Linked DNA regions of Homo sapiens. The protein of the gene in region 3 interacts with the protein of the main gene of each other region in a biochemical or structural test. Each region holds a gene or a part of one and is shown on either strand. Other genes may lie near its edges.

The links.
Region 1: the proteins of EVL (region 3) and PFN2 form a complex in vitro, tested with the Homo sapiens proteins (one study listed by BioGRID).
Region 2: the proteins of EVL (region 3) and DNMBP form a complex in vitro, tested with the Homo sapiens proteins (one study listed by BioGRID).
Region 4: the proteins of EVL (region 3) and TES form a complex in vitro, tested with the Homo sapiens proteins (one study listed by BioGRID).

Annotation. Positions count from the first base shown.
Region 1 is NC_000003.12:149,967,811-149,975,473, forward strand, and holds the start of PFN2 (profilin-2), read right to left. Parts: upstream 3,086-7,663; 5' UTR 3,047-3,085; coding exon 2,915-3,046; intron 741-2,914; coding exon 548-740; intron 1-547. UniProt on the Homo sapiens protein: Binds to actin and affects the structure of the cytoskeleton. At high concentrations, profilin prevents the polymerization of actin, whereas it enhances it at low concentrations. By binding to PIP2, it inhibits the formation of IP3 and DG.
Region 2 is NC_000010.11:100,006,653-100,014,874, forward strand, and holds the start of DNMBP (dynamin-binding protein), read right to left. Parts: upstream 3,296-8,222; 5' UTR 3,186-3,295; intron 2,932-3,185; exon of another isoform or gene 1-2,931. UniProt on the Homo sapiens protein: Plays a critical role as a guanine nucleotide exchange factor (GEF) for CDC42 in several intracellular processes associated with the actin and microtubule cytoskeleton.
Region 3 is NC_000014.9:100,131,316-100,138,686, forward strand, and holds part of EVL (ena/VASP-like protein), read left to right. Parts: exon of another isoform or gene 1-1,403; coding exon 1,404-1,464; intron 1,465-1,731; coding exon of another isoform or gene 1,732-1,844; intron 1,845-2,885; coding exon of another isoform or gene 2,886-2,973; exon of another isoform or gene 2,974-4,583; intron 4,584-4,589; coding exon 4,590-4,653; intron 4,654-6,262; coding exon 6,263-6,329; intron 6,330-6,424; coding exon 6,425-6,487; exon of another isoform or gene 6,488-7,371. UniProt on the Homo sapiens protein: Ena/VASP proteins are actin-associated proteins involved in a range of processes dependent on cytoskeleton remodeling and cell polarity such as axon guidance and lamellipodial and filopodial dynamics in migrating cells.
Region 4 is NC_000007.14:116,206,062-116,213,806, reverse strand, and holds the start of TES (testin), read right to left. Parts: upstream 3,269-7,745; 5' UTR 3,100-3,268; coding exon 3,073-3,099; intron 1-3,072. UniProt on the Homo sapiens protein: Scaffold protein that may play a role in cell adhesion, cell spreading and in the reorganization of the actin cytoskeleton. Plays a role in the regulation of cell proliferation. May act as a tumor suppressor. Inhibits tumor cell growth.

The DNA.
Region 1 (7,663 bases), on a different chromosome or scaffold from region 3:
GTCTCAGACACAATCTTTGAAAATATTTCAGTGAATGGACAACTTACTCCAAAATCCTCATCTAATTATCTTTTCCCCAGCAAAGTTCCTAACTGAAAAATGAACGGATGTTAATTTTTCCTTCTTTATGCTGAGTAGTGAAATGGTTAGAATACAAGCAAGAAAAAAAAGAAAAGAGATCCAAAGGTCAAACACACACCAAAAGGGACTAAAATAACCAAGTGATTCGAACAATTTAACAATCTGAAACACCACAGGATTATGATTTGACATGTCAAGCAGTTTAAGAGACTTTTAAGTTTAATAAAGCTGAAAGTGAGTTCATACGAATATTCTATCGTAGAAACAAAATCAGGATCTAAGAGGCCAGGTCATAGATGCTGTAGAGTAGGTAAAACTAAAGCAGTGCTTCTCCATAGTGCTGGGCAGTTCACAAAAACCACCTTAATAGCCATTATGGACTAACTTTTATTCAAAATGTTAAAAGAAACTGCTTAATAAGTTGTAATGTGGCATGCAACTTTAACCAAAAGAATGCCTTACTCACCTCTACCAGCTCTGCCGACAGCCACATTGTATGTTGGCTCCCCACCTTGACTCTTTGTCCGGATGTCCATTGTGCAGTCACCATCGACGTATAGACTATCTCTGATCACTGAGCATTTCTTCGCGCCAAGAGTCAAACCGTTGGTAAAGAAACCTTCCCGGTCTTTTCCTACAATCATATCTATTTCTATTGGCTGCCCCCCACCAAAAAGAAAAAAAAAAAACACACACACATTAAGTTGTAGTTAACTCCTTTTAGGGCTTGATGTAACAGGAAGGGCTGTAGCTAGGCTTATGCTACCACTGCCAGATAGCCACATTTCACTAATGTAAAACCAAGATTCAGTCTTTTCTAAATAATTATTTAATCCTATATAATCACATATTTTACATGAGTTGATTTGACTTCAGTTAATGATGTCGTCTCTTAACCAAGACCAGTCTATACAAAGAAACTGTAAAGAGTTGACAGTTGACACTAGACAAAGTGCAAACTTAAAGAGTTATTTATAAACTGTATTAAGTCAGCTGGTGCCTGAAAGTGTTCACGTAATGGTAAAAATTCAGCTATCAACTCTGAACAAAGCTGGTCTATCATATTCAGTCCCATTACAGTAAATCATGTTTCATCAAATTTAAAGTTGCTTCAAAGTCTCCCAAAATAAAGCCTGTTCTTTGATGTGTTCACTTCTCTGCTTAGAGTAACTAGAAATATACGTGATGAGATGGACTTCAACCCCTGGACATCAGTGCTTTTCCAAATTCATATTTCCCTCCTATTTTTCTAGCCACGACTCCCGTTTCTTTCCAACTTCCCTTCCCCTCCCATCTCAGTAATCAGTTTTCTTTCTGGGCAAACGCAAAGTGGATTCTGTCTACAGCACTGCGGTAGGCAATAGTAAAACAGAAAAAATGGAGGGAGATTGGGAAAGAAACTGAGGTAGCCACCAGAACCGGAAAGGAGAAAACGTGCATTCTAACATTCCATGAATAAGAAGGAAGGCGTCGCCCCCATCAGAACTGCAGAGTCATAGCAGGCCCCAGCCATTTCCAAGCACACTCCCGCAATCTTCCTAGTCAGACAGCGGGAACTCACACACAAAGACAAGAGGACTGCAGGAAAAAAGTTGATGACCAGATGCCAATTCCCTACAAGAATTGTAGTCCACTGCGGGTATACGAGACCTTAAAGTACTACTATCAAGGACTGAGTTCTAAAGTTAGACTTTAAACCATGTTAAGTGGTAAAAGAATAATTAGCACCCTTAATAGGGGACCTGAATTTTGGTGCTTAATGGAAAGGGAGCGTGGTGCTAAGAAATAAAGAGAATGGTCTCGTATTTAGTACAATTATCATAATTTTAGAAACAGCCTTGGGCAGAAACAGGCAAAACAATAAGCTGGAGGTTTTGTGGCAAATATTCTCCAAACATATTGCAACCAACTCAAAACCATCAAGTCTCAAGAAAATCAGGCAATGTGAAGCATAAAACTGCATTAGTTCCTTTACTGCCACCACTAAAGAGGGAGGGACTTAGAGAAGTGAAGTGTGCTCCTGGTCTTCGCAGATAATTGAAAGCCCCCGAAAAGCACCCCTTTTTTGAGCTATGTTGCATAACTGGGGATAACCGTATATCGATGAATCTCCATATGAGAAGAGAAATCAATGGCAGTTCGCCATCTTGGAGAATTTAAAAAAAAAAAAAAAACAACCTATAGAGCTAGAGCTGAAGTCGAGATTCACGAATCCACCTACGCGGTCGGCGTACATCTCTCGCAAGCCCCAGAGGCCTGGACATCGGTAAACCTACGCAAAGTCGCTTCGAGAATCCCGGGGGCCGGGCCGGGGCCGCCGCCTCCCACAGCCGGAGGCGCGGGAGGCGCGCTGTCCGCGGAGCAAGAGCCGGCCAGAGAGCCTAGGGACCTCCACCCGGGGCCCGCGCGCCCCAGCCCGGATCCCCGACCCCCGCTTCCACCCCAGAACGTGCATAGCAAACCTCAGGGCTTCAAGAGAACCTAGGGGAACCGCACTAGGAGGAAAAAAGGAACCCCTCCCCTTGCCCTGGCCGGTGCGTGCCCCCTCCCCCAACCCGGGCACCTGGACCGACGCTGGGAACGCCGGGGGCGCCCGGCCAGGGCCAGCAAGGAGTCCGGCCGCCGCCCCCAGCCTGTCAGCGCAGCCCCGGGTGAGGGGGCGTCCCCGGGCCTCGGCCTCCCCGCCCGCCCGGCAGCCGCATCCTCGGCGCCCGCTGCCTAGCACACCTGCGGGCTCGGCCCTCAGTGTTCCAGCCCCGCGCTGCGGTGCCCCCGCGGCCGGCCACCCCGCTCCGGTGCAGGGACCAGGGTACCGGCCGCCACTGGTCCTCACCGTAATGCTCTGAAAGACGCCCCCGGCCGTGGCTGCCCAGACGTATTTGGCGTCGCAGTAGCCGACAATGGCGGCCTCCTGGCAGCAGCCATCGCACATCAGGTTATCCACGTAGCTCTGCCAACCGGCCATCTTCGAGCCCTTCGCACTGCAGCGCGGACGGCGAGGAGCAGCAGGCGCAGCGGCGGCGGCGGCGGTAGCGGGCGGCGGCGGCGCGGGGGGAGGCGGGGCGGGGGCGGGGAGGAGGCGGCTCTGCGCAGGCACCGACCGCCCCCCTCCCCGAGGAGCTGCGGCGGGAGGACGCGGGTTCAGCGATGAGGGACGAACCTCAGAGCGCGCTCGGCCGCCCGGCCGCCCGCAGCCGCGGGGCTGACAAACCAGCGGCGGGAGGCTGCGAAGCGGCTGTGCCTGTGGCGGCTGCTCCTTACCGCAGCGCCCTCCGTTTTCCGCGGACACGGCTGGGCGTGCGCGCGCGCGTGCGTGCGATCCTTCCGCGGCGCCCGGGCACGGAGGGTCCCGGGAAGGGCGGGGGGAGACTGAGGCGGGGGCGCGGAGGGATACCGCCCCGGGACAATCACGGCCGCCACGTGCGGGAGGCGCCGGCCGGGAGCGGTGGCGGGCCGAGCTTCGGACCTCGGGCCGGCGGAGAGGGTGGACCCCGCGTCGCTCTCGGCACCCCAGGAACAGCGGCGGCACGGACGCCTTGGAGCCCCGCGGCCGGGCCGCGATGTGCTTTTCTCCTGTGTTCGCTGCCCGGGATGCGGAATCTTGAGCCTCGGTGTCGGGTTACAGAGTTGTCCTGGTGACGGGATGCGGAGCGTTTCCTCCTTTTTGTTGTGGGGGCGGCTGGTGGCAGGGGCAGCTGGTGGCAGGGTTGCCCACGCTAATCTCCGAGTCTCTAAGGGCACCGTCTTTCCTGGATCCCTCTTGCGCCTCGTCCATAAAGGCAGACCCGCGGGCGCGCGCCGGCAACCTGAAATCAGAGCAGGCGTCCGTGGCGCTCAGGAACCTTGCTGAGCTTCGCCGATCTTTCATTGTTGCTTCATTTGGGTACCAAGGGCCTCTCATTCTGTGGATTCTTTGCCTGGAGGAGCCCCCTTAATGTTGCTAATCACGTGTGGTTAAATTGCTCGTAAATTCCGAACAAAACAAATAGCGACCTGTGTTACACTGTTTCTTGGTAACTGGGAAAGTTACTGGTGGCTTGAAGTATACGCAGAAAATACAAAGATTAAAAACTAGGGAAGAGTTCACTGAATGAACACCGTAACATTTCTGCTCTGCAGGGTAAAATAATTTCGGGACCCAGGTCTGGGAAAGATTTGTATTAACAAGGTAAACGGTGGGTAGAGTGCCTGAGAAGCTATTCGTATCGTCTTTGGTAGCCTCTGGGCACTAGGACTAGACATGGAATTAGGGGTCCCCCAACAATGACTTCAATTTTAGGTTAATAGAAACCATCTGCCACTTAAGGGAAAGAAAGCACCAAAATGTAGATAAGTTGATGTTCACCCTTAAAGTTATCGTGTGAGGTCATGATTTGTAGGAGGATTAAGGAATGTATCTCTGGAAAGGGCAAGAACGTTGCTTTTAAAAGTCTAATTGGTTCTGAAGTTTTATATTTTTTCTGCTGATTGCTTTAAAATGTTCAGCTACTAGAGAGAAAAAAAGTACAGTAAAAGAAACCCCCAAGTCAGAGACCTATCAGACTGAGAATATGTATTTTCTCATGTTCTAAAGATACAGAATACCTGTGTGGTGTAAAATGTGAACCAAAAATTGTTTCATTTTTGTAAGTGTGCCTCCCACCTGATTTAATTACACTTAATTGTTCTTGTTTATGACTCTGCCTTTTATGGTGATGTTGATCATTTTAGTCCTTCGATCATAGCACTGTATCATCTTAAAAGTTAATAATAGATTACTTGTAACACAGGCTCACTATGTGAGAATTCATCAAGCTGTATGTACATTTATTGTGCTCTTCATTGTATGTATAATTCAATAAATTGAAACAGTAAACGAAAAGGTAATTATAGAAAAAATACAGTGATAACTTGAAGTATGTTGAATTTTTATTAATTTACTCTGAAGGTTTTAAGATATAATTTCTAGACGTTACTATCTTATTGTTATAGCACAGAGTTGGAAATAACTACATTCTTTTCCTATTCTTTTATTGTTGGCTTTAAACAGTGAAAGAATTTGACCAACAATATTTTCTAATTCAAATCTCAAAAGATTCTAAAACACATTTCTTGGGTAAAATATTCACAAAAATTTAGAATTCTTGTCATTCTTCTATATTTTTCAAAATATAATTCATTTTAAATTACTGCTTACTTTTCCAACATGATGTTATTTTTCTAGAATTGCAAACAGTAAAATTTAAACAACTATGAAAAAAATTCTGTATAATAGATTAAATTTTACAGTTTCAATTTTTAGGTTATATATTCAAAGAGAGTCCATGTGCTGTCTTGGTTTTCAGTACTGTAATAAAGTAACCTGTGCTTTTTTGTTTGTTTGTTTATTGAGATGAGACTCCGTCACCAGGGCTGGAGTGCAGTGGCATGATCTCGGCTCACTGCAACCTCCGCTTCCTGGGTTCAAGCGATTCTCCTGCCTCAGCCTCCCAAAAGTAGCTGGGATTACAGACACCCGCCACTACGCCCAGCTAATTTTTTGTATTTTTTGTAGAGACGGGGTTTCACCATGTTGGCCAGGCTGGTCTCAAACTCCTGACCTCGTTATTCGCCTGCCTCGGCCTCCCAAAGTGCTGGGATTACAGGCATGAGCCACCATGCCCGGCCACCTGTGCTTGTTTTCTTTAGAACCAGCTTCCTTGCATGCTGCTTTATTTTCCATTTGTGTACAGTGATCCCTTCCTATTTCATCTAAGTGTTGCTTATACGTTTCAGAAAGTATAAATAGAGGTGGAATACTGAGCTTTAGTAATAACAATATTGGTTCACTTAAGTCCAAAGGAGTATCAGTGTGAGAAAAAGAATTGCCAATTTGTATCTTCCTCTACTTTTCTGAGAGTAAGTAATCCCTAGGATAATTGTAATATCTGGGCAGAAGTTTAGAAAAGTTGTGGCTGTGTTGTTGATACAAATAGCCAGAATAATGTAGCCATTAACAATCAGTAGCATATTTAAGTTTGGAGTGCATTATTATGCATTCTTTCCAGAATTATTTTATTCTTATTGAGTAAAGCAGAAACTGTGTAGTAAGCCACGTTCTTTAATGTGTAAGTCAAGTGGTGTCTGAACCACTTGAGTCCATGTAAAAATCATTTGAAATTTTAGCAAAACACAAACAAGAAATTATCTTTAAAATGTACACAACCTGATAATCATTGGGAGCAGGATCTAAAACTATACACAGTAATTACCCCCAAATTTAGTAAAACCATAATTAACCATCAGTTATTTAAAAATTTCACCGCATAGTTCATTTCTGAAAAAAGTATATGAATTATAAAATCAATATCACAGCAATAAAGTTTAGAAAATGGAGAAAAATCCTTAATCCCACAAGCTAATACAAATATCTTTTGAATGTATTCACTATGTATGATTTTTACAGTAAAGAACAAGGAGAACTTATAATTCTGCATTTGGCCATTTTACCCTGAAATTCTATGAATTTTTGCTTTTTATATTTTGAGGCTATTAGGAAAATGGAAATTTAAATTGTTATATTTTTCCTTTCTGATGAATTTATTCTTTATTATTTAGTAGTTGCCCTCTTGATCACCAATACTGCTTTTTGTCTTAAAATTTTTGTCAAATATTAAGGTAACATCCCAGCTCTCTTTTTATTGGTGTTTACCTTATATATCTTTTCGCTCCCCACCTCTCTTTCAACCTTTCTCTGTCCTTTTTATTTTGTGTCTCATAAACTTCACGCAGCTGGATTTTGTTTTTTTATCCAATATGGCAGTATAACCTTTAATTGGCAAGTTTATTCCATTTACATTCATTGTAATTATTGACATACATTTGGACTTGTTTGAACTAATTTTATTAGTCTCTTTTTTTTTCTATGCTTTTTTCTTCCTTGCCTTTAAAAAAAATGTCGGGCATGTGTGTTTTATTCTTTTTTTTTTTTCAAATTTATGCTACCAATTTTTCTTAGTGTTACCCTTAAATTTTTGCCTTGCATATTTAATACAATAAAGTTTTAAGTTAAATATCTTAAACACTACCCCTAGACAATCCAAAAACCTTAGAATGTTTTAAGTCTGGACACCTCTCTCCAGACTCTTACACAGATGTTTATGTATGTGTGTATATATATGTACTTACATGTTTGTATTTTATTTACTTACTATTCCTTTTCATATCTCAGATCATTCTATGATCATTTTTCTTTCTAAAGTACATCTTTTAGAAGTTCCTTTAATAGCAGTCTGTTGGTGAGAAACTATGTTTATCTGAAAATGTATTTATATCACTTTCATCCTCTGACAATGGGTTGGATCTACAATGCAAAATGGACACTTTGAAGATGTTATTCCATTTCATTTTGGTTTTTGTCACTGCTGTTGTATCATATGGATGATTTGTCTCTTTTCCTCTGGCTACTTTGGAACCTTTTTGTGTTTGCTCTTCTACAGTTTCACTATGATGTGTCTACATTTGGGTTTCTTTTATTCTACTTAGGAAAATAGATTTATATTTATCATCACTTCTGTAAAATTCTCAATTACTATCTCTTCAATTAATTCCTTTTTCTCAGTTC
Region 2 (8,222 bases), on a different chromosome or scaffold from region 3:
ACTCCCACCCCCTCTCATCTGCTGCCACCTCCCCCCAACCCACATCCACACTGACTGGCCACCATGACCTTGCCACCCCTAACATGCCAAGCATGCTCCTGCACCAGGGTTTGGAACATGCTCATCCCACTGCCTCCTGCTCACTTCCTCATTTCCTTCCAGTCTCCCACCATGAGTTAGGCCAGGTGTGGTGGCCCATGCCTGTAATCCCAGCACTTTGGGAGGCCAAGGTGGGTGGATCGCTTGAGGCCAGGAGTTCCAGACCAGCCTGAGCGACATAGTGAAACCCCGCGTCTACTAAAAATACAAACATTGGCCCAGCGTGGTGATATAAGCCTGCAGTCCCAGCTTACTCGGGAGGCTGAGATGGGAGGATCACTTGAGCCCAGGAGGTTGAGGCTACAGTGAGCTGTGATCACGCCACTGCACTCCAGCCTGGGTGACAGAGCAAGACTCTGTCTCCAAAAAAAAAAAAGTTATCTCAGTAGAGGCTTTATTTGACCCCTCTATATAAAAAGTAAATCCCCTACCACACATATACATACACACACACACACTCTTACCCTTTCCTGACTCTAAAGTTCTCCACAGCATTATGATCCTTTGACCTATTCATTCACATATTTGTCTGTTTCCACCCAATTAGAATGTGTCTGTTCCACGAGGGCTTAGTCTGTTTTGTTCAAACTGGTTCCCCCTCCCAGCACCCACAGCATACACAAGTGCTACCACGACCCCGGCACACACAGGTGCCCCCCACAAGCACATACAGGTGTTCCTCCTCCCGGCACACACAGGTGCCCACCCTCTCAGCACACACAGGTGCTCAGTGAGAATGTGTTCAGTGAATAAACAAGTAAGGACCAAAAGCCATGCCTTCAGACTCCTCACACAATGCCCTATGTGCCTGCCCTCAAGTGCTGGTTCAATTCTTGGTGGTCACGTCCTTCAGTCAGAAGAAAAGATCTAGAAATCTAAAAATGAAATAATACATTTTAGCTACTCTATTTCACCTCCCACAGCTGCCTTTCATAGCAGGGAGGATAAAGAACACAACTAAAAGTTAACATCTTGGTTTAACGGCTCTTTCATTAAAGAGCTCATTTTACTGCTGCTACTTAAGAACTTTCTGCCTTTCCAGGCAAGAAACTAATAACTCATAATTAACTCCTGACCAACAAGACTAAGTTAACCAATCTTGAAAATTAGCTTATTCAGATGTTTTCCAGAGTGTGTATAATAAGAAACTATTTCATATTAATTGAATTGGTGTTGCAAAACTTTCCAGAAGTATTCTGAATGAATTCTAAGGATGCTTTGGCAGATGATCAAGCACATTCGAGAATTTCACAGGAGATAATCTCGTAATAATACCATGTTGTAGGTAATCCATTAGCTGACTCTAGAAACAACAGAATACTAAACCTAGAAAATAAGCCAAAAGCCAGGCTCGGTGGCTCACGCCTGTAATCCCAGCATTTTGGGAGGCTGAGGCAGGCGGATCACCTGAAGTCAGGAGCCAGAAAAGAGGAAGAGATTGATGGAACGTTGAGGGAAATGCCCTGCCTTGGGGCTGCAAGACAAATAAATAACTGGTGCATATTTAAACAGATCGTTTATGAAGATTATTATTATCTCAGCCAAAAAATACACAATATGAACACTGTATAAAAGTCAATTTATCACATTCTCTGAGTCAGACTGTTCTTGGCTTATTGCAAAAGTTATCAGTGCACTGCACGAACCCCGTTCCCAAGCCAGACTTGAGCTACTCTCCACCCTCCAGAAATCACTCCATTGCAGCCTCTGAATTTAAGTGAATTTAACACGTAAGTATCTGCAATTTGAAAAGTCACTTTTCACTTATTTTAGCCCAACCCTGATAAAGTGACTGAGAGAGCTGAGAATAATGAATTTGAAGATTCGCTATGCCCCATTATGCAGAATTCTAAAAATCTTTTCTTCTTAAAACATTTTTATTATCACAATGAGTGACGTGTTTCAAGTTAACATGTAAAATCGGAGAACTCGAGACAGAAGAGGACCTTAGAGATCCTTTAATTCAATATTTTAGAGAAAAATGGGTAGAGGATAAACTAACTTGCTGATCACCGTGTCGGTATTCATGCTGTGAAAGTAATAAACGGAACACCAACTGAGAAATGATCCCCGAATGCTGTCAGGTACTTCAGTCTTGCAAAAACTACTACAGATTAATCAGTCCTGCTCATCCGTTTAACTCAGCTATGTAAACAAGCAGAGCTAGACTATGCTCAAACCCTAAATATTAGCGTTACCACTCGCCTGCCACATACTACAGCATCATTAGTTATGAAAGTGTTTTAATACAAGATCTTCATGTTTGTGTAAAAGAATTACTATAAAACAGACCTAAAGGCAAGTTACCCATATTCCAGAATAAGTGAGTGCCAAAAATATTCACCCTTCATTACAGTACAAATGAGACAGGCAGTAATAATGAGACTGCATTTAAAGTTGTTTTTGCACTTAAAATTTAAGTCTATACTCCTCATCTGCATCAGGCCCCGGCCTGTTTGGTAACCTCAATATTCCTTTACTAAAGTGACAGCATCACCACCCTTTGAGACACAGATGCCCGGTGGACATCTGTGCCTGCAGCAGGAACGCGGGTGTCCGCGGGTTTCTGCAAAACTCCACCATGACCAAAGCTGCATCTCCAGCTGAACAGGTCTAACCCTTGCTTCGGAAGCCATCTGTCCCTGTCTCCCTGACACAGAATCACGGCCTCCTATGCCGTAAGGCTCCGAACATCTGTAAAATCAGCGGGGTGGACTAACGCAGAATTCTTTTTCCAGCTCTCAAAATTCCGCCTCATTGCCGGAGTGGCAGGGCGGTGCAGAGAAAGAGCCCTGGGCTTGACACCGCTTGAAAAGCCCACGTTCGCATTGCTCTGACCACCCCTCCAACTCCCGGGGACTACAGGAGTGCGAGGGGGCCCGCTGCGCCCCACTGTCCCTCGCGGGCTCCTGGCCCACAGAGCGCAGCACAGCGCCGCCGCTGGGAAAGGGCCGATACAGGCCTAGCCGCGCGGCGCGGCGCGGCGCGTCTCTCGGGGTGCGGGTCCCCTCCGCCCGCGGCCCCGGACCGCGACCCCCGCTCCCCGCCCGGCCCCCGCCCGGCTCCGGCCTGGCCCGGCCTCTGACCTGCTTTCCGCCGCCCGGCGGTCCCTCGGCGCGGCAGGCAGTTGCAGCCGCCAGTCCCCAGCCCGCTGTCACCTCCGCCCCTGGAAGCGGCGGGCGGGTCGATCCCGTGTGAGTCAGCGCGCCGCCCCGCCTCCCGCTCAGGCTTCCGCCTCTGCCGGCGCGGTCCGCGCGGCCCCGGGGGCGCCAAGCTCCGCTGCCCGCGCGCCCACCTCTCCGGCGCCCGCCCCGCGCTCGCGCCCCCTGGCGGCCGGCCCGGCCCTGCTCGCCTCGCGACGTCAGAGGGGCGTCGCTCCCAGAACGGCCACCGGGGAAACTGAGGCACGGGGGCCCGCCCCCGCCGCAGCGCGCCGACACGGCTCGTCGGGCCTCGGCCTCACGCAGTCCTACGTGCAGCCCCGGCTGCGGACAAGTTCCTCCACTCTTGCTGTTCCCCCACTCCCGACACCACCCTCCAACCTAGAAAAAAGTCAAAATTCCATTCAGAGAAGTCCAAGTCGATTCCTGTCTGCGTGTGATGCTGTCCTCTTTGCTACCCCGAGGCAGTTTCCCTTATTATGCCACACAATACTCGCTGGGGTTCGCCTCTATCTGTCCCATTTTTTTCTGAGGAAAGTCTCTCAGGACATCTTTGAGAATTTGAGAGCAAGAAATGACAGAAGCAAGAACTGGGCAGGGCTGTCAGAACTCCTCCTCCGACTCAGTTTCTGAATCCCCGCAGTATTCCCGTTGTTTGTTTAAAGACCACGAAGTTACACAGCTTGGCTATGTTGCTGGAATTGCTGCGCCTCACGTTTCTGGAATCTACCTAGAGGATTCTGAAGAAGGCGGCGAGTCTATGACTGTGCATGCACAACAAAAATAAATATTTCACAAATCTCATCCCATGCTGTATATGTTTCTCCTTCCCTTTGCTTTTTAAAAACTTGTGGTTAAATATATATCACATGAAATTTACCATTTTAATCCTTTTTAAGTGTACAGTTCAGTGGCATTAAGTACATTGACATTGTTCTGCAACCATCACCACCATCCAGCTCCAGAACTTTTTCATCTTCCCAAACTGAAACTGTACCCATTAAACACTAACTCCTCATTCTCCAGCCCCTGGTAACCATCATTCTACTTTCTGTCTCTATGATTACTCTGGATACCTCATATAAGTGGGATCATACAATATTGTCCTTTTGTGAGTGGCTTCTTTCACCTAGCATAATGTCTTCAAGGCTCACCCATGTTGTAGCATGCGTTAGAATATCCTTCCTTTTGAAGGCTGAATAATACTCAATTGTACGTATATAACATCTTTGGTTTATCCCATCTTTCTGTGGACATTTGGGTTGTTTGTACCTTTAGGCTATGGTGAATAATGCTGCAATGAACATGGGTGTACAAATATCTGAGTCCCTACTTTCAATTCTTTTGGGTATATATCCAGAAGAATTGCTGGATCATGTGGTAATTCTGTGTTTAATTTTTTGAGAAGCCACCATACTGTTTTTTTTTCCTTTGCTTTTTGAAGCATGTTAACACTGTAAAGAGAACATTTTGTAGTAAAATATCAACGTTCGGAGAGTCTTTAAAATTCTTAGCAATGCTTCATTTGCCTGTAAAACTGTGACTTTTCGGCGGATCACGAGGTCAAGAGAACGAGACCATCCTGGTCAACATGGTGAAACCCTGTCTCTACTAAAAATAAAAAATTAGCTGGTCATGGTGGTGGGTGCCTGTAGTCCCAGCTACTCGGGAGGCTGAGGCAGGAGAATCGCTTGAACCCGGGAGGTAGAGGTTGCAGTGAGCTGAGATCGCGCCACTGCACTCCAGCGTGGTGACACAGCGAGACTCCGTCTCAAATAAATAAATAAATAAATAAATAAATAAATATTTTAAAACAAGTGACTTTTCTTTCCTCAAGAAAGTAATTAACATTGCAAATCTATTGTCTTTATTTTTGGATAATGTTATTAGCCAAAATAAAAATAACTTATTATTCAGTTTCCTACAATTTTGTTTTCTGTGGATGTAGCTTTCTAAAGTTGTTTGGAGTCAAGTATGCCATATGAAATTCAGATGAAAAATCAAGCATTTCGTTTTATTTATTTTTTTCGCCACGTTGGTCAGGCTGGGCTTGAACTCCTGACCTCAGGTGATCCACCCTCCTCGGCCTCCCAAAGTACTGGGATTACAGGCATGAACCACTGCGCCCAGCCTGGGGATCGGAGTTTTTTGTTTGTTTGTTTTTTTGAGACGGAGTCTCGCTCCGTCTCCCAGGCTTGAGTGCAGCGGCGTGATCTCGGCTCATTGCAAGCTCCGCCTTCTGGGTTCCCGCCATTCTCCTGCCTCAGCCTCCCGAGTAGCTGGTACTGCAGGCGCCCGCCACCACGCCTGGCTAATTTTTTTTTTGTATTTTTGTAGTAGAAACGGACTATCACCGTGTTAGCCAGGATTGTCTCCATCTCCTGACCTTGTGGAGTTTTTAAAGATAATTTGGCTGGTGGGGTCTTGAGAAGTGGGGAGTGCTGATTGGTCAGGTTGGAGATGGAAACATAGGGGGTCAAAATGAGGTTTTCTTGCTGTTTTCTGCTCCTGGGTGCAATGCAGAACTGGTTGAGCCAGATTACCGGTCTGGATGGTGTCAGCAGATCCATCAACTGCAGGGTCTGCAAAATATCTCAAATACTGATCTTAGGTTTTGAAATAGTGATGTTATTCCAGGAGCAATTTGGGAGGTTCAGGCTCTTGGAGTCAGAGGCTGCATGACCCCTAAACTGTAATTTTTTTTTTTTTTTTTTTTTTTGAGACGGAGTCTTAGTCTACCGCCCAGGCTGGAGTGCAGGGGTGCAATCTCAGCTCACTGCAACCTCCACCTCCCGAGTTGAAGCGATTCTCGTGCCTCAGCCTCCCTAGTAGCTGAAATTACAAGCATGCACCACCACGTCCAGCTAATTTTTGTATTTTTAGTAGAGATGAGGTTTCACATTGTTGGCCAGGCTGGTCTCAAACTCCTGGCCTCAAGTGATCCATCCACCTCAGTCTCCCAAAGTTCTGGGATTACAGGTGTGAGCCACCACTCCCGGCCTTAAACTGTAATTTCTAATCTTGTAGCTAATTTGTTAGTCCTGCAAAGGCAGACTGGTCCCTAGGCAAGAAGGGGGTCTTTTTGGCAAAGGGCTATTATCAATTTTGTTTCAGAGTCATGAACTGAATTCTTTCCCAAAGTTAGTTCAGCCTATGCCCAGGAATGAACGAGGACAACTTAAAGGTTAGAAGCAAGATGGGGTCAGTTAGGTCTGCTTTCTTTCACTTCATAAGTTCCTCAGTTAAAATTTTGCAAAGGTGGTTTTATACTTTTCATTTATCAATGAATTCTTACTGTACATTTGTGATGTAACAGGCATTGTGCTAGGTGTTTGGCATTCAGGCTGACCAACACAGACAAGATCCTTGCCTTCATGGAGCTCACATTCTAGAGTAGGGTAACAGACAATAAAGAAATAAACAAATGATAATCCAGACAATCATGGGGTGTAGTTGAGTGTTATGAAGGAAACAAACCAACTGATGCGATAGATTAGATCACAGAGAATTAAAGCCTAGTGCCCTAGGCATTTGTTGTATGTAATGAGTTAACTTCTCTCCTATGCAATGTTGGGGCTTAGAAACCAATACCCTAAAATAGGGTGCTTTGTACATGTTGAGCTGAAAAAGCAGTCTCAAGGTCTCTCTCAACCTCCTCCCACCTGCCCCTCTTCACTGTCTCTCCCAAAGCATAGTATTCTCTGAAGTTTCCTTATCTGTCCAAAGTCCTGACCTACCAAAGAAAAACAATTATCTCTGATCTCTTTCCTGAGTTTTAATTAACTGAACCCACATTGCAAGAAAGAAGACCAAAGTCTGTCAATAAACCTGGACAGACTTTTGTCACAAACCACTGTCTGGTCTGCAGGCCCAACAGACTTTGTCCCAGACCATTGGAAGTTCCTCAAGTTCATTGAATTCTCCCTAGTAATCATTTATTGCCCTCAATAGAATTCCTCTTCTTCACCCTCCCATAACCTGTTTTGCCAGCATCCAAGTCACCATTTTTTCTGTAGCCTCAAGATGGTACATAAGCTTCTGCACCCCATTGGGGGGTTGGTCTTCCGTGTCACATAAAACTATTGTCAAACAGATGCATATGCCAATTAATCTGCCTTTTGTGACCTGATTTTTCAGCAAAACTTCAGAGGGCGAAGAGGAAGTTCACCTGACCCCAACAGCAACCAGAACAGTTCAAGTCATACTCAGTCCTTGAAAGAACTAAGAGGACAATTCACTCCACACAGCTTCTATGTCATGTGGTTTAGATAAGGAATCTAGGCTGATAAAGGCCAAAGTGAGGGATGGGAACCTTCTCTGAATATAGAGATAGTTGGGGAAATCCCCTCTGGGGATGTAACATTTACCTGAAACTTGAATAATGAGAAAGAATCAAGCCGGACATGGTGGCTCAAGCCTGTAGTCCCACGATCTGCAGTGAGCCATGATGGCACCACTGCACTCCAGCCTGTGTGACAGAGTGAAACCCCATCTCAAAAAAAGAGAGAAAGAATCAGCCATGTAAAGAGCTCTTCAGGCAGGAGAAACTGCAGGTGCAAAATCTTGAAGTAGAAAGCCATCTAGTACGTTTCGGAAACACAAAATAAGCCATGTGAACAAAGGAGGCAGTTTTATGAGATCAGATTAGAAAACAAACAGGGCCAGGTGCAGTGTCACGCATCTGTAATCCCAGCTACTTTGGAGGGTGAGGTGAGAGGCTCACTTGAGCCCAGAAGTTCAAGATTGCAGCACATTATGATTGTGCCTGTGAATAGCCACTGCACTCCAGCCTGGGCAACATAGCAAGACCCTGTCTCTTAATAATAATAATAATAACTATCTTTTTTTTTCTTTTTTTTTTTTTGAGATGCAGTCTCGCTCTGTCGCCCAGGCCGGAGTGCAGTAGTGCGTGCAATCTTGGTTCACTGCAACCTCTGCCTCCCAGGTTCAACTGATTTTCCT
Region 3 (7,371 bases):
GGTGGGAGAGTCAAGGCCCTCCCAAGAACAAACATGCTTTGCATAGCTCAGCAGGGATCAATCAGGTGCTCTCTGAAATCCACCTCAGTGATGGCTACTGGGTGGAGCCGACGATGAAAGTGCCCTTGCCAGGTTTCTTTTCATGTAGGTTGTCTCCCGCCTCTGAGGGCATGCAGTTGAGTCTCCCAACAGTGGAGGGCAGGAGGGAAATGAACGTGGACAGAAAGCTCCTGTTCAGCAGCACTTTCACAGACACTCATCCCGCCTACACTCCCCGTGAGCAGGTGGCTTGGTCAGCGTTCTGTTTCTAGGAGATGGGACACTGGCTGCTGGGGGGTAGCTGGTGAGGTGTAAGTGATCGTGGCTAGGCCAGTTAGGAGACTCTGACAGTCCAGGAAGAGATGATAGGGGCATGCAGGAAGGTGTTGAAGGTGAAGACAAAAAAGACAGGCAGGTACCCAGATTTAGAGAACTGACCAGGCTGACAGTTATAAGAAGCTGGTGTCAGGGATGATTCCCTGGTTTCTGGGCTGAGGGACGAGGTGGGCAGACCTGTCCTGAGATGGGAGCTAAAGAAGGGGGCCCCTGCTGTAGCTGAGGAGGCTGCCAGGTAGGCCCATCACAGACAGGTGACAGCCTGGCCACGGCCCATTATCACACCTCAGACCAGCTCCATGCTTGATGGGCAGCTCATCTCAAGTTGAAAAGCCACAGAAGCGTATCTCTGGGAAACACTGAGGGTCTGCCTGCCTCTGTAGACCTGGGAGGTCAGCAGATACCACTGAGGCCAAAAAATATGGGTGAGGTTTTAGAGTACATGAAACGGGGATTCATACTGGGGAGGTGCACGAACCGACTCAAGGGCGTCACGTGGACCTATTCCAGGGCTCCTCTTCTGAGCATTTCCAGGCTCTGAGTGGCATTCTAGATTGGGGAGGGCGTGGCTGGGTTAACTGAGTTCCAAGACACAAGGGCCTTAGAGTGACACAAGAAAGTGTCCAGTGTCCCGACCTGTGGGACAGACTGCAGCCCAGAGAGATGCCTCTCTGTCCCGTGTGGCCAGGCCTTCAGTGTCCTGGGGACAGAGCGTGCCCGCCTCCCCTCCACGCCTCAGATGCTACAGCTGCTGCCAGTAGAGCTAAACAGACATAGAGGCATCTCGCCCTCTCTGCCTAGACCAGTTTTGTGTCCCAGGCCATGACCACACGGAGGGCCTGGACATTTGCCTGGGCCTGGCTCCTCACCAGACGGGGCCTAGACAAGCCGCCTCCTTCACGCCATCGTTTTCCCACACAGGTTTATCTGAGGACCGGGGTGAGTCTGGCAGGGTGGAGGCAGAAGAGTTCTGGGACAGTGAGAGAACGTGAGGAGCTGATCTGTATCTTCCCCTTCTCTGTGCCTAGGAGAAAAGCAGCCTCCCAGTCAGACAAGCCAGCCGAGAAGAAGGAAGATGAAAGCCAAATGGTGAGCAAGCAGCCCGCCCCACCCTCAGGCTCCCCACTGAGATGAGCGCATCGCCAGGGAGGCTCTCTGGTCTCAGGCGAGGCCTTTGGGACATGCGTGGGATGGGCGCTTCATCAGGTGATTCACAGGAGGGGCGGAGGGTCTCTGCGGTGCTTGTCCCTGCGCCACCCTGGCCCCAGCAGCAGGCCTGCCCTCACTGAGCACCCCCTACCAGACACTGCTCCACCCTTGGAGCTGCAGCCTGAGGCGCTGGCCGCTGCACCGCAGGGCTACCTCGCCTTCCCAGGAGCCCCGGGGAGCACAGACCAGCCAGGGTCTCGGCGGGACTGGGACTCCAGGAGTACACTGCAGAGGGGCACGTCTGCCAGAAGCCCAGAGAGGTTTTTATTTTCAAATTATTTCTGTTTCTAAAGACTCCTCTTCCAGCAGGAGCTTCAGGTGAGCTGTGGCAAAGGAGCCCTGGACCCCTGGCTCTTGTCCTTACCAGGCAGCCCAGAGCCAGCCTGGCTGCCAGAGCTCCCAACATCTGCTTCCAGTTAGGGCGGCTAATTCTCTTTTCCTCCATGTTAAGCTTTTCCTATAAAAAGACTCCTACTGACAGGGCTAAGTTTAGCCTTAACTACAAATGCCTTGAAGGTTCCACCTCAGTGCAGAATCAGAGAGGAAATAAAACTGCCAGGGACCAGAGCAGGCTTCCTGCCCTGTCCTCCCATCAGTCAGGGTCATGCTGGTGTTACCCTGAGGCTATAGCCCTCCCAGCTGATCCACGCCTCTCAGCCCCGTCCTGGGCACATATGGGTCCCTTTGCCCCACCAGCCAACTCCCATTCAGCCTGCACTTCCCTGCATCACCCTTACACCTTAAAAAACAGCCTCCCGGCCGGCTCAACACTTCACACTTGTAGTCCCAGCACTTTGGGAGGCCGAGGCAGACGGATCACCTGAGGTCAGGAGTTTGAGACCAGCCTGGCCAACATAGTGAAACGTCATCTCTACTAAAAATACAAAATTAGCGGGGCATGGTGGCGCATGCCTGTAATCCCAGCTACTCGGGAGGCTGAGGCAGGAGAATTGCTTGAACCTGGGAGGCGGAGGTTGTAGTGAGCAGAGATCGCACCATTGCACTCCAGCCTGGGCAACAAGAACGAGACTCCGTCTCAAAAACAAAACAAACAACAACAACAAAAAAACAGCCTCCCGACCCCCAGGCCTCACAAAGCTCCTCACTACTTGATCCCAGCCCCGGTCTTCTCCCGAGGCCCTCTGCACAGGCACGACTGCTTGTGGAGACTCGTTGTCTCCTGCCAGATCTTAGGCCCTTGGAGGGCGAGGCCTGGGCTTCTCACACGTCCACCATTCCCATACCTTGCACATGCTGTGGAGTTTAGCCAACTGACTTGCCATGAATTTCTGAAATTGCAGGCCACGGGATAATCACAGACATCAAAATACTGTGGCCTCGCTCCAGCCACAGCCCTGGGGATCTGAAGACATCGCTGGCCTTTCTTAGTCAGGTGCCAGTATGTTGCAGTCCCAGCCCCTGAAAACTAAAACTCTCGCTCCTGGAGCTCTAAGAAGAATGGATTTCAAAGCCCAGGGGCTTCTGGAAGAGGAACATTCTTGAAACCTTCAACCCCAAGGATAGCACTCTCCTCCTCAGACCCCCATCTTTTCTGTCTTGTTTTTCACAGGCCCCTGGCTACAGCTGGTTCTTGTTTGCCATGGTCCCTTCTCATACCCAGGACTAGCGTCTAAAGAGAGCAGGGCCTTCAGAAGATCCACACACCACACAAGTGCAGTGGGAGGGAGAGAGGCTGATGGCCGGCACTCGTTTTCTTGTTCATGCTTCCTGGTATTTCCCCAATTCTCTGCAGTGAACATGCACTAAGTTTATCATTAACAGAGAAGAAAGAAGGCTTATTTGAAAGACGAAAAGAGCCCCAAATGTGGAGTCCGGTGACTTGGGCAGGCCCTCTGCCATGGCAGAGCTGGCCCTGGGCCAATGGAGTTACTGCTCCGAGGACCAGTTCCACCACCTGAAAACCTGCACCCAGGCATGGCCGCCTCACAGACTGTGCGACTGCCAGAGGTGGGGTGCAAGTCTCTGTGCCCAGGGCCTGGGAGTGCTGCGGCCACCTCTTTCCCAGCCTAGAGTCAAAGCATAACTTCCCTTTTAAGCAGGGAGGGTTTTAAAAAAATAACATACAAGAAAAGATGATAATTTTTTAGTGACTCTGATGTCACCCTGTATCGCTTTCATCGTGGCCCCCACATGTGTGTGTTGATTGACATAATCTGTTATTCAGCTGTCTTTAAAATGAGGAGGCCTGAGAACCTCATCCCAGCACCTGCAGGCTGGCACCTGCTTTTGCCTCTCGACCAGAGCCTCCCGGGACTTACTCGTTCACCACACAGATACGCAGGGCGTTCCTGATTCTCGTGTGGGGATGTAGTGAGCAGAGGAGACAAAGCAAAGACCTCTGCCCACGGTGACAAGGGAGAGGTTCTTTGCTTCAGATCAGAATGACACATCAGGTTGGGTGGCCGCCTGTCAACAGCTCAAATGCTGTGCATTCTGCTTCATCAAGTGGAAGGATTACTCTTATTACTTAATCAGTGGCATGTTCCTGATGCTGAAAAACCATCCTGACGCACATGCCATGCATGATGAGTGTTAGGTGTCCCCACTGCTGGATGAACACGTCCACTGTTCGAGCACTGCCACAGACCTATTACACGGGCAGGTGTGTGTGCTGCACAGGGGGAGCAGGCCAGTCCACGGGGTGCTCATGAGAAGTCAGTGAGATGACATACGGGAGGCATCCGGCCCAAGGGGGGCTCAGGGCTTGCGGGTGTTGAGGGCCAGAAGGAAGTTCTATATCACCCTGCTGAGAGCCTGTAGCTCCCTGTAGCCTTCCCCTTCCCCAGCTTTGTCCACTGGCTCGATTCTCTCCCCACTGAGATTTTGCGTTTTCACTTTTAAATATTTAATGTTTTGCTAATTATAAAAGTCATATGTGTTCATTGGGAACATTTGGAAAACTGAGGTTTTATGAAGTGTCCAATGATGTCCTGCCCTGGCCCCAGGTGGCCTTCCTAAACAGACTCCCTTCTTCTCCATTTTAGGAAGATCCTAGTACCTCCCCCTCTCCGGGGACCCGAGCAGCCAGCCAGCCACCTAACTCCTCAGGTGAGAGGGCGCCCCCCGCTGACCCCAGTGAGGCATGAGGTCTCAGAGTGGGAGGGGGGACCCTTCGGACAGGACCCTCTGATCCAGCCTCTTTAGTATGCCTGAGCAGAGGGCCAGGCCACAGGGAAGCCCATTTCTTATGGGTCCCCCAGAGCCTCCCCCAGGAGCCCATGTGGGAGCACAGGAAGTGCTAGAGCAGAGCCACTGTGATGGGTCCCCAGGGTGACCTGCGTGTCACCTTCCCACCAGGACCCTGAGTCCCGCACGAGAGAAGGCACTTGCCTGACGGCACATATTCAGGGTGGGAGTTTGTGTCCAGGGCTCCTGAGGCAGGCTGGGGCCAGTGCTCTTAAGAGGTATCAGTGTCAGGACTCATGTCTCCCAGTGAAACGCCAGCTGATGACCGACATTACAGAGATGGCAGTAGATCTCGCTCCACCCAAAACGCAGCCCCTTCCCTGGCTCAGGTTTCTCTCTGTCTAAGCTGTGGCAGATGGGAGGTAGTTAGGAGAGTATGATGAGGCTTCGCAGGGGAGGAAGACCCCAGGGTTGGTTGTTCATTCGACAAACATCTTTGCAGCACCTGCTCTGTGCCAGGCCTGTGCTCATGAGCACAGCGAGGAGAGACAGGGGCATCAGGCTGCCCTAGCTGGGCAGAGGAGGCTCTTGCCAGCTGTTCGCGTGTGTCTCTGGGGCATGCTCAGGTTGGGTGTCGCCTCCCTGTGAAACTGCACGCCATGTCCTCTCCTCCTAAGATTTTTGCCTGGTGTCTTGATTTGCCAGGATGCATAGGTTCCTGGCTGATGAACGTGATCAATACCCCTGCCCTGTTTGCTTCTTCCAACAGCCCAGTGAGTGGGCTACGTGGTTCCCATCTGTGTGCAAAGTGGTTTGCTCAAGGCCACACACCTGGGACATGTCTGTAGCCCCAGGTCTAGTGCCTGCAGGCCCAGCGCCTGTCCCAGAAGGTGGCTTTGAGGAAAACTGCCTCAATCCCACCGTTGGTCCGCAGGGTGCCAAGGCTTAGCTCTGGGCCAGGCAGCTGCCCCACTACCCCCTAGAGATTTTGTCTTCTGCCTCTGCTTGTCCTGCACAGTCAACGAATTCAAGTTAATGCAACAAATCTTTTGGAGTAGAACAAAATATAATCCAATACCACTTAAAAAAGACAAGCCAGCCAGAATGGGACAGAGCCAGGCGCAGCATGGGAGGCAGACTAAGGAGCCCCTCAGTAGCAGGTGCCGGGCCGAGGGGCCTGGCCGCCACACCACACGTGGGAGCAAGGCTGTGCTGGGATGTCCGGGGAGGTCGTGCTTGCTCGCCCTGTGGCTCTAGTCACTGGGTCCCTTACCAGCAGGCTCACATTCCAGAGAGACCTGGCACAGTGAAGGGCTCAGAACCAGATCACAGGTCAGGGTCAACCTGACCTAGGCCATGGGGGACTGAGAACAAGGTGCCAGGTTTTGGCTTAACTCAATCAGACCTTCCTGCCACGGGGCTCTGCACCCTTGGCATGGGTGAGGGCTTCCTGTTGGGGTGTTTAGGGGATTGGGGTGGCTACTGAGTCCCTTCACCTGTGAGGTTCTTCATCCATGAAATGAACTGACAGAGGCTGGCCGGAAGCCCTGGGAGCGGAGCAACTCGGTGGAGAAGCCTGTGTCCTCGATTCTGTCCAGGTGAGCTGCCCCAGGAAGGCCTGAGCAGCGAGGCTGGTGGGGCAGAGGCGGGCGCTGGCGCCGATTCACATGTCTGTTTCATTCCATTGCCGTAGAACCCCGTCTGTGGCAAAGAGCCCCGAAGCTAAGAGCCCCCTTCAGTCGCAGCCTCACTCTAGGTACCGAACAACCCTCCTGCTCACATGTCCCCCAGGGTTTGGGGCTCCTCTGTCCCCCGTCCCGTGACTAACACCCTTGCACGCTGTCTCACGTCCTGGCATTTAACAACTTGCTCTGCGAAGGTGGTCTGTTCTTTCAGACCCAGGACCTCGGGGTCCTGTCAGTCAGCTGCTCCGTCTTTTCCCTCTGAGAGAGAGACCAAGGGCAAGGAGGGCAGTGACCTGTCCACAGAGGTAGTGCAGGGGGGGGCCAACATGGAGTCCCAGCTCTGGACTCACTACGTGTGACAGTGGGCAAGTTAGGGGACCTCTCCAAGCCTCTGTTTTCCCCCCACAAAGTGAGGTCTGTTAACCCCTGCTGCACAGGGTGGTGGTGGGGACAGCTGTGAGCAACAGCTGGACATGGGGTGTGGTCACTAGCCAGGGCTGCACCCTACAGTTCAACCAGTCCTAGCACTGGCGCTGAGCCCTACCCCTTTCCTCCAGCCCAGAGTCCTTCCTCTGCGGCCGGCACACAGAATCAGTTTCCCCACAGACATACTGACCATATTTCCCAAGCCAAAAGCTGGCATGACAACATGATAGAATATTTGGAACTGAGATTGCCCAAAAAGGCAGAGGCAGCCAGCCACATAGTATCTGGAGGTACATGTGGCCTGAATTGGAAGGCCTCTAGAACCTGCGTCAAGAATGTCTCCATCGCCACCACAAATTGAAGGGAAACCACCCTTATCACAGAGCAGGAGGCATTGAAACTGGCCTTGCAGAGCTGAACAGGTGGTGAGAGCAGAGCAGTGCAGGTGGACAGAGATGAGGAAGTCTTAGCAGTCAGCTGGGGTTTGTCCAAGGCTTGTGGTCAGCCAGGCCGTGTGCTGGGGACAGTC
Region 4 (7,745 bases), on a different chromosome or scaffold from region 3:
AATAAGAAAGAGGTCTAGATGTGTAACTCAGAAGACAGGGCAAGGACATAGAATCAATTCTGTTCTAAAGTATTATTAAAACAAAAACTTTGTATAACCAAACTAGCTCCCACATCCTAGCAACAGCTCGCTTTCTTCAAACAAAACAAAATATAGCAAAATCTAATTATAAAAACCCCTTGTCTTTGTGATGGTGGGTTTTAACTGGTAATTAATCCCAATTTGTACAACTGATGTGGACGAGCTTTCCTTTTACAAACCAAGAATTTTATAATAGTATCATCTATCTCAATCACTGTTTAATAAAGACAGTCCTCCTTAATTCTTTTTACATGAAATGTTAATGTGGAACAATGATGCTTTTCATCTGTCTGGAAGAAATTCCTCATGAAATCAACAATGTAAAAGTTTTAGAAGGAAAAAATGTCATACATCTTAAAACAGAAGTCATATTAGTTGTATTTAAATGGTTGTATCTTTGTTCCAACTTTTAATCTTCCTTTTCTCAAGGTACATTCAAACTATAAATTTTCTTGAATAACTGAGTCAAAAAGAAAGGAGACTTGAAAACTAGGTACCAAAATAGGGTGAGGACTCTGCTGGTAAATCAGATAGTCTTGTAATATTTCCTTCTTTGGACGTGTTAGAAAACAATTGCTAAAAGGAACATAAATTTCTTTTTGAGAGTATGGCTAAGATTGTGAAATACATTCCTGAGATTTCCAAATTTTGTACTGGGAAACTTTTTGTTAGACTATCAAGCCTATTAAGGGACTCACAAATTGGAGTCATACGGGACATCTCTGCGGTTTTTTAATAGCTTCCAATTTACCAGTTGAGGATTCTAAGAATCATCAGTGAAGACAACGTAGTGAAACAGGGATTTGTTATATCATGGGATTCTCTCTAAAACCTTTAATTTATGGAATTCTTTCTGGGGTGGTAGAGGCGGAGAAGAGGAGGATTAGAGAAAGTTAAGATTCTTGGTTGAAAATATAACTTTTAAAAGTAAAGTGGGGGATAAACGAGGAAAATTACACCATATGTCAAGGGCATTATTTATCATAATCCACATTTTCAAACTCTAAGGAAATTGTTTATAAACAACGTCTGGATTTTTCCTTTGCAAGCATATACAATTTTTAAGTTTGAACTTCTTCCCTCAGAATTACTCCTTGTCTCAAAAAGTTTCAAAAATGTCTTTGATTTTTCTCCCCCTATTAAACAGACTTTATTTTTAAAGCATTTTTTAGCTTCACAGCAAAATTGAGCAGAAAATTCGAAGTTCCCATGTACCTCCCCCATGCCTTCCTGTCTCCAGCAGCCTCCCGGACTACCAACAACCCGTATCAGTGCAGTACATTTGTTACAAGTGATGAAACACATTGACACATCATTATCCCCAACATACATAGTTTACATTAGGGTTTACTCTTGGTGTTCTACATTCTATGGATTTTGATTAATGTATAATTACATGTATCAGCCATTTTATAGTATCATACAGAATAGTGTCATTACCCTAAAAATCCTGTGCTTCACCTGTTCATCCTCGGCAGCCCAAAATATGTTTACTTTTGCAAAGTTGTCTTCAAATAAATACTTAAAAGCAAGGACAAGACCCCCCAAGTTTTAGACAAGTACTAAATTAAGTAGCTCTTACCTACTTGAAAACTAAATGAGAGTAGTATTCATCAACAGAAAGCTAAGCGGGCAAAATGCTTTCCCCGCTTTTCCCCCATGACAAGCAAGATTAACCAAAAATATTACAGTTATTTAAAAGAAAAAAAGAAAGAAACCAAATGGGAAGAGAATAGAATGCAATCACGCTACCATTAACAATTTATGTTTTTCTGTTCTTGGATACCTTTTTGAGTGCCTGAGAATTTTAGTCGCAAGGAATGAAAAAAACTGTTTTCTCATTTCGAGTTTTTATTGGTCAATAGCTTCCTAACCGAAAACTCTGCAGTCCTAACACAATATTTTGTATCCATTTTCAAAAATCCAGTTCTGGGCATAAAATAGAATTAATGCTCAAGTCAAAAACTTTGTGTTTAGAAGATAAAATATTAGGAACCATGAGTATGAGAAAAACAAAAACTGTTTTCTGTATTTTTCCCTTCCTCTCTCTGCAAAACTTCTCTATTTGATAAGGGACAGCTAGCTTAAATTTACCACAAAGTAAAACATGAGCAAATCCCCTGGAACGAGGAGAACTTTCGCACAGGGCAATTCACTCGAATGTGACATCAGCATTCCTTCTGAGTCATAGTCTGGTCCCCACCCTTTTCTCCCAGGCGACACCAGGCTCCGCATAACCCGGGAGTGGCTCAGGTAGGGCCGTCGGTTCCAGTGCCTGCGAGGCAGCAGCCAAGCTGAAAATGTCTCCCTGCGCTGAGACGCTGGTGACAACCGCCCTTTGGGACTACCTGCCAAACAAGGAGAATGCGCTCTTTGACAGATAATTCCCTAAGAGGGAGGCACTGCCTCGGTCGGTAGACAAGTAATGAATGACCGAAAAAAAAATCACATTAGAAGTTATCACCAGCACGGGTGCGAAGGCAGTGCATTAAATCAACACTCATTTTAGAGCGCCCCAGACAGCCCAGCCGGAAGGGAGGAGATCAGAGCTGTCAAAGCACAGCAGAGCCCCAAACCACAAAGGCTTAATGAAATTCAACTTCCTGAGCCAGGAAGTGTCACGGTCTCGCCCGCACTCGCCCTAAGCTCGTCCTTTCCTTTTGAGGAGGCACAGGCAGAGCTGAAACATCTTAAGTAAAGTTTCCAACACCTACAACCACTGGGATTCCGTGAGACTGGAGAGAAGAGTCCCGCGCCCGCCCTCGCTCGCGCTTCCAATTCTGTCGCTCCCGAGTGTGGGGAGCTGGCGGGGCCGCCGAGCACCTCCTCTACCCAGGGGGCCAGGTCCCTGGGCCCGGGGCACCGCAGACCCAGAGCCGGGCTCACACCGGGGGGCCCGCGAGCCCCACCCACCTCGGCACCTCCGGCCGCCGCGCGCCGCGCGACCCGCGCAGGTGAAGCAGCCGCCGCCCGCCACGAGCGCCCCCCTACCTTCTTCACTTTGTTTTCCAGGTCCATGTTAACGCGTCCTATGGGTCCCCTCCTCCTCCTATCCGGGATCCCACGGCCGGGTTCAGCTGGCCTCCGGCTCCGCTGCGAACACGGGAAACCTGCGGAACTCCCGCGGCGCCGCTCAACAGCCACTCGCCCGGCGCCGTCGAACTTCCGCCGCCCAGTCCGCCGCAGCGGGCCTGCGGCCCGGACCCGGGAACAAAGGGGGCCGGGCAGCCAATGGCAGCCGGGCAGCTCCGGGCCGCCGCCAATCACCGAGCGCCGCACGCACCTTCGCGGCCCGAGCGCGGCGCTGGCAAGGTGAGAGGCGGGGCGGCGTCCGAGGCGGCGCCCTGCTGGGCAAGCTCAGTGACCCTGACCTGGTCTCCGAAGGGATTCTCTGGGCGTCCACGGGCCGGCTTCTAAAGAGCTGGGATCCCCAGCCTCCCTCTAGCTGAAGATGGAGAAGAACTTTTTCCATTTGGCAATTTGTACCTGTGTTTGCCCAGGACTTTTTATTTGGGTCAAGGGGAATAGTTATCCCAATACTAACTTCTCAGTTTATTTTCAGGGTAAAGAGAGAAAAAAAAGAGAGAGAGAGAGATTGTAGGGATCGTTAGGGATTCCTGTGATGGACCTTGGGCACTAAATTCAATATTGCGTTGTGGAGATGCCCTTTCCTCAATTGCTTTTTTCCACAATCCCAAATACTGTCAAGAAACCGTATCTTACATCCCTAAAGTCAGCGAAGATTCTTAGATTGTTTTCTGAGCATTGGGTTGTTCAAAAGTAAAGATGATGTGAATCACTTCAGAAACAGGTTGTGTCATTCCTTTGGAAGCAGAGGGTTGCCCTTTGTCTCTGTGTGAGATGGTGCTAGGCCTATCGCGTGCTCAGGCTTTGATGAAGCAGAGTCATCACATTGGTGCACCAAAGCTGAATTCATTTCATGCCCTAATTCAGGAGCAATTGCATCTAATACCATCAGATTGGTCGGTCTGGAAGGGAGCCTAACGATTACTTAGTCTAGCTTCCTCACTTTGCAGGGAACTGAGGACTCCAGAGGTGCAGGGACCTGCCTAATGTCTTAGCCTGTTGGGGACAGAGGCATTGCTCATGAATCTAAACAACTTCTCAAAGATGTTTGGGGCTGGAAGCACAGCATGTTGACTAAGGAAAAAGAGCAGTCAATTTTCTTCAATTTGTGGTTATGGCAAAAAATAACATTGCCCAGACAGCAGGTGACCTAATTTGGCACCTACTTTTAAAAATAACAAAACAATATAAAACAAACAAACAAAAATTCCCTAATAATGCAGATATTCAGGTCCAGATGTATGTCTGCCTTGCCTCGAGAAATTTGGTAGCTAAAAATATCCAAAATTCATTTTAGCCAATACTTGCAACTCTGCTTACTTGATTATTTGTTAACACAGAGCATTGATTTATAATGTGCATGTTTCCTTTATCCTATTAAGAATTAAAACTGAAATTACCAAAATGAGTTATGCATTTTTCTTTTCAGCTGATGTAAAACTTTTCTGTGTCATTTTCCCAAACCACCTTGAAAGGTGTGGGCCCCTGCAAAGTCTGCCCGTTGTAAGTGTATAGGATCATGAGGTCTAGCTATGACAAGGCAATTTTGTTTCTTTCAGAGAGCTTAACAGATGGAAAATGTCCAGTAAAGCAATTTAAATAAGGCATCAAACAAATGTTGTAACATAAATTTTGGACCCTTATTTGATGAGGTTGCAGAGATGACACTAAGAAAACCATCTGGAAACTTTTTTTTTTTAACTGTCAACTTCTGCCTTTCTCCCATTCTTCCTTCCCAACCCTCTCAGCATTACATTGTGTGTGTGTATCATTGGCAAGGATGGAAATAGAAATTCAGTGAGTTTTATCTGGAATTATCACTGTGCCAATTATATAAAAATAATTATAGATTATGTATAAATTATAAAAATAAAATTGAGGTAGATAAGTGTTAAGAGAGTTAAATTGTAAGTTTTTGTTCAGTTATTCAGGTGTTAAGCTACAGTTATTAAGGAGGTAGAACTGGCATGGTTTGATGAGTACATGTAGTTGATGACAGTGGAATGAATAGAAGATGGCACACATTTCTATCTTGATCACCTCTATGGATAGCTCAGAAAGAGAGAAAATATAGGATGATGGTCAGGGTTTTGTTCAGTTGTGCATTCTTTGGGGCTGGTGGTGGACATAAAGGATACAACTTTTAATATATTGAGTTTGAGACTGAGACATTGAAATGAGTATCCAAATATACATCTTGAATGCTGATTTAGGAGTTCACATCCTACATAAATAAATAATTAAAGGCCAAGAAGTGAGATGAGCCTCGGAGACAGTAAAATAAAAGAGAAGAATATCAAAGACACCAAGTGAGCAAGGCTGAGCAAGAGAAACACATAAAAGAGATAAGGGCTAGATTAAGGGTAAGAAAAAAATTAGGAGTCAAATCCCTAAAAGCAAGAAAGGAAATTGAAGAAGAAATTAGTTAACAATGTCAAATTGTAGAAAAGGGTCAAATGCCCTTCGGATTTAACAAAAAGGAGATCATTGGTGACTTTGGAAAGTGCATTTTTGGTGCAGTTGTGGGGAAAGATATTACTTTATAATTTTATCTCCCTTTGTTTCTACCAGAGTGCTTTAGTCAATGTTGGACTTGACTTTTCCACAAAACTTATGGACACATCAGCCAAATAAATGCCCAACTCTGCTGTTTCAATCAAGTAGAGAGGAAATCAATATACTATACTGGATAATACTAAGGAATGGTCTTAAGATCTTTATCTTTAGAGAAGTAAATGAAAATACTAGATTTTACACATGTGTGCAGGCACACACAGAGAGAGAGAGACAGACAGAGACAGAGACAGAGGAGAGAGAGAGAGAGAGACTGAAGTTCTCTGTATAGGCCAAACAAAATATTTATTCAGGTTAAATTCAGTTTCTATGCTATCAAATTACAATATCCGATGAGGGAAATGTGTTAAACTTTTATGTACCCTTCATCACTGGAGAGATGTAAAAATACATAAGACATTCCCTTTGTTCTTAAGCAGTTTACAGATTAGTATGGGAGTAGCAGGTGTGTAAGAGTAATGAAATGTTACAGGTAGAGGGAAGCACACGTGAGAGTCAGGGAGAAGGTGGTATTGGGATTTGTAAAATCTTTAGAAAAGAGTAACCTTGGCTTAGTCTTGGAAGATGAATAAGTGTCTTAGTTAAAACTCTTGATTGCAAGTTATATTAGGCCGTTCTTGCACTACTATAAAGAAATACCTGAGACTGGGTAATTTATAAAGAAAAGAGGTTTAATTAGCTCACAGTTCTACAGGCTGTACAGGAAGCATACCTTCTGCATTGGCTTCTGGGGAGGCCTCAGGAAGCTTACAATCATGGCAGAAGGCAAAGTGGGAGAAAGCACTTCACATGGTAAAAGCAGGAGCAAGAGAGACAGAATGTGTTGGTGGGGGAGGATGAGGTGTGCCACACAATTTTAAATGACCAGCTCCCCTGTGAACTCAGAGAGAATGCTCATTTATTGCCAAAGGGATGGCCCAAGCCACTCATGATCCAAACACCTCCCATTGGGCCCTACCTCCAGCATTACGGATTACAATTCAACATGAGATTTGGGTGGGGACAAATATACAAACCATATCACAAGTAATAGTAACCCTCGAGCTAGTTTACTTTTAAAAAGATGGCATTTTATTTTAAGGATACAGAGGCTTGTTGCAAAACTCAAGGGCCAGATGCATCTGCGACTAGACCAGGCACTTGCCAACATCTGGAACAAGGAATCTACTCCTTCACTGGGGTTATGTGGTCTCTCATCTTGCTGCTTGGCCTCCATCAGCTTTAGTTCTTTCTCTTTGAAGACTCTGTTTTCCTGCACACATGGGCAACCAATAAAGGCAGTCTCAGCTCGTTAATTGACATCACCCTAGTTCAAGCAAAATACCCAGTTTGGGATTTCAACCCCTCTAACAAAAAGACTTTAAATAGCCCAGCTTGGATAAGCTTAAACTTCTGATTCAATTAGCTGAAGCTGGTGCCAGTTGAGAGACACAAAGGACAACACATAGACTAAAGCCCAAACTTATAGGTAGGACAAATCTCACAGAGAGGGAGTAATAAGAGTTTTCCAAATGCCTCCAAAGATATCTATCTCTGTTTCAGATGTTACAAGGAAATTAGCAAAGGAAGAGGCTTAGTAAGTACAAGCAGAAGATTTTTCTTTCTGTCGATATTGGAGAACTTTTTCCCTTGACTTTTATTATAGGTTTGGGAGTACATCTGCAGGTTTGTTACATGATTAAATTGCATGTTGCTGGGGTTTGGTTTACAAATGATTTCATCAGCCAGGTAGTGAGCATAGTACACAACTGGTACCTTTTTGAACCTCACCCTCCTCCCACCCTCTACCCTCAAGTAGGTACCATTGTCTATTGTTCCCCTCTGTGTGTTCTGGTGTACTCAATGTTTCTGAACATTTCAAAAACTATTTAAATTACAGAAACCCCACTTGGGCAAAAAGTTGTAGATGTTTATTTTATTGCTAGGAATGGGGGTAGATAATGAATAGGACAAGTCTAAAGAATGGAAGATTAATCAGGAGATTCTAGCTATAGCCCACAAGA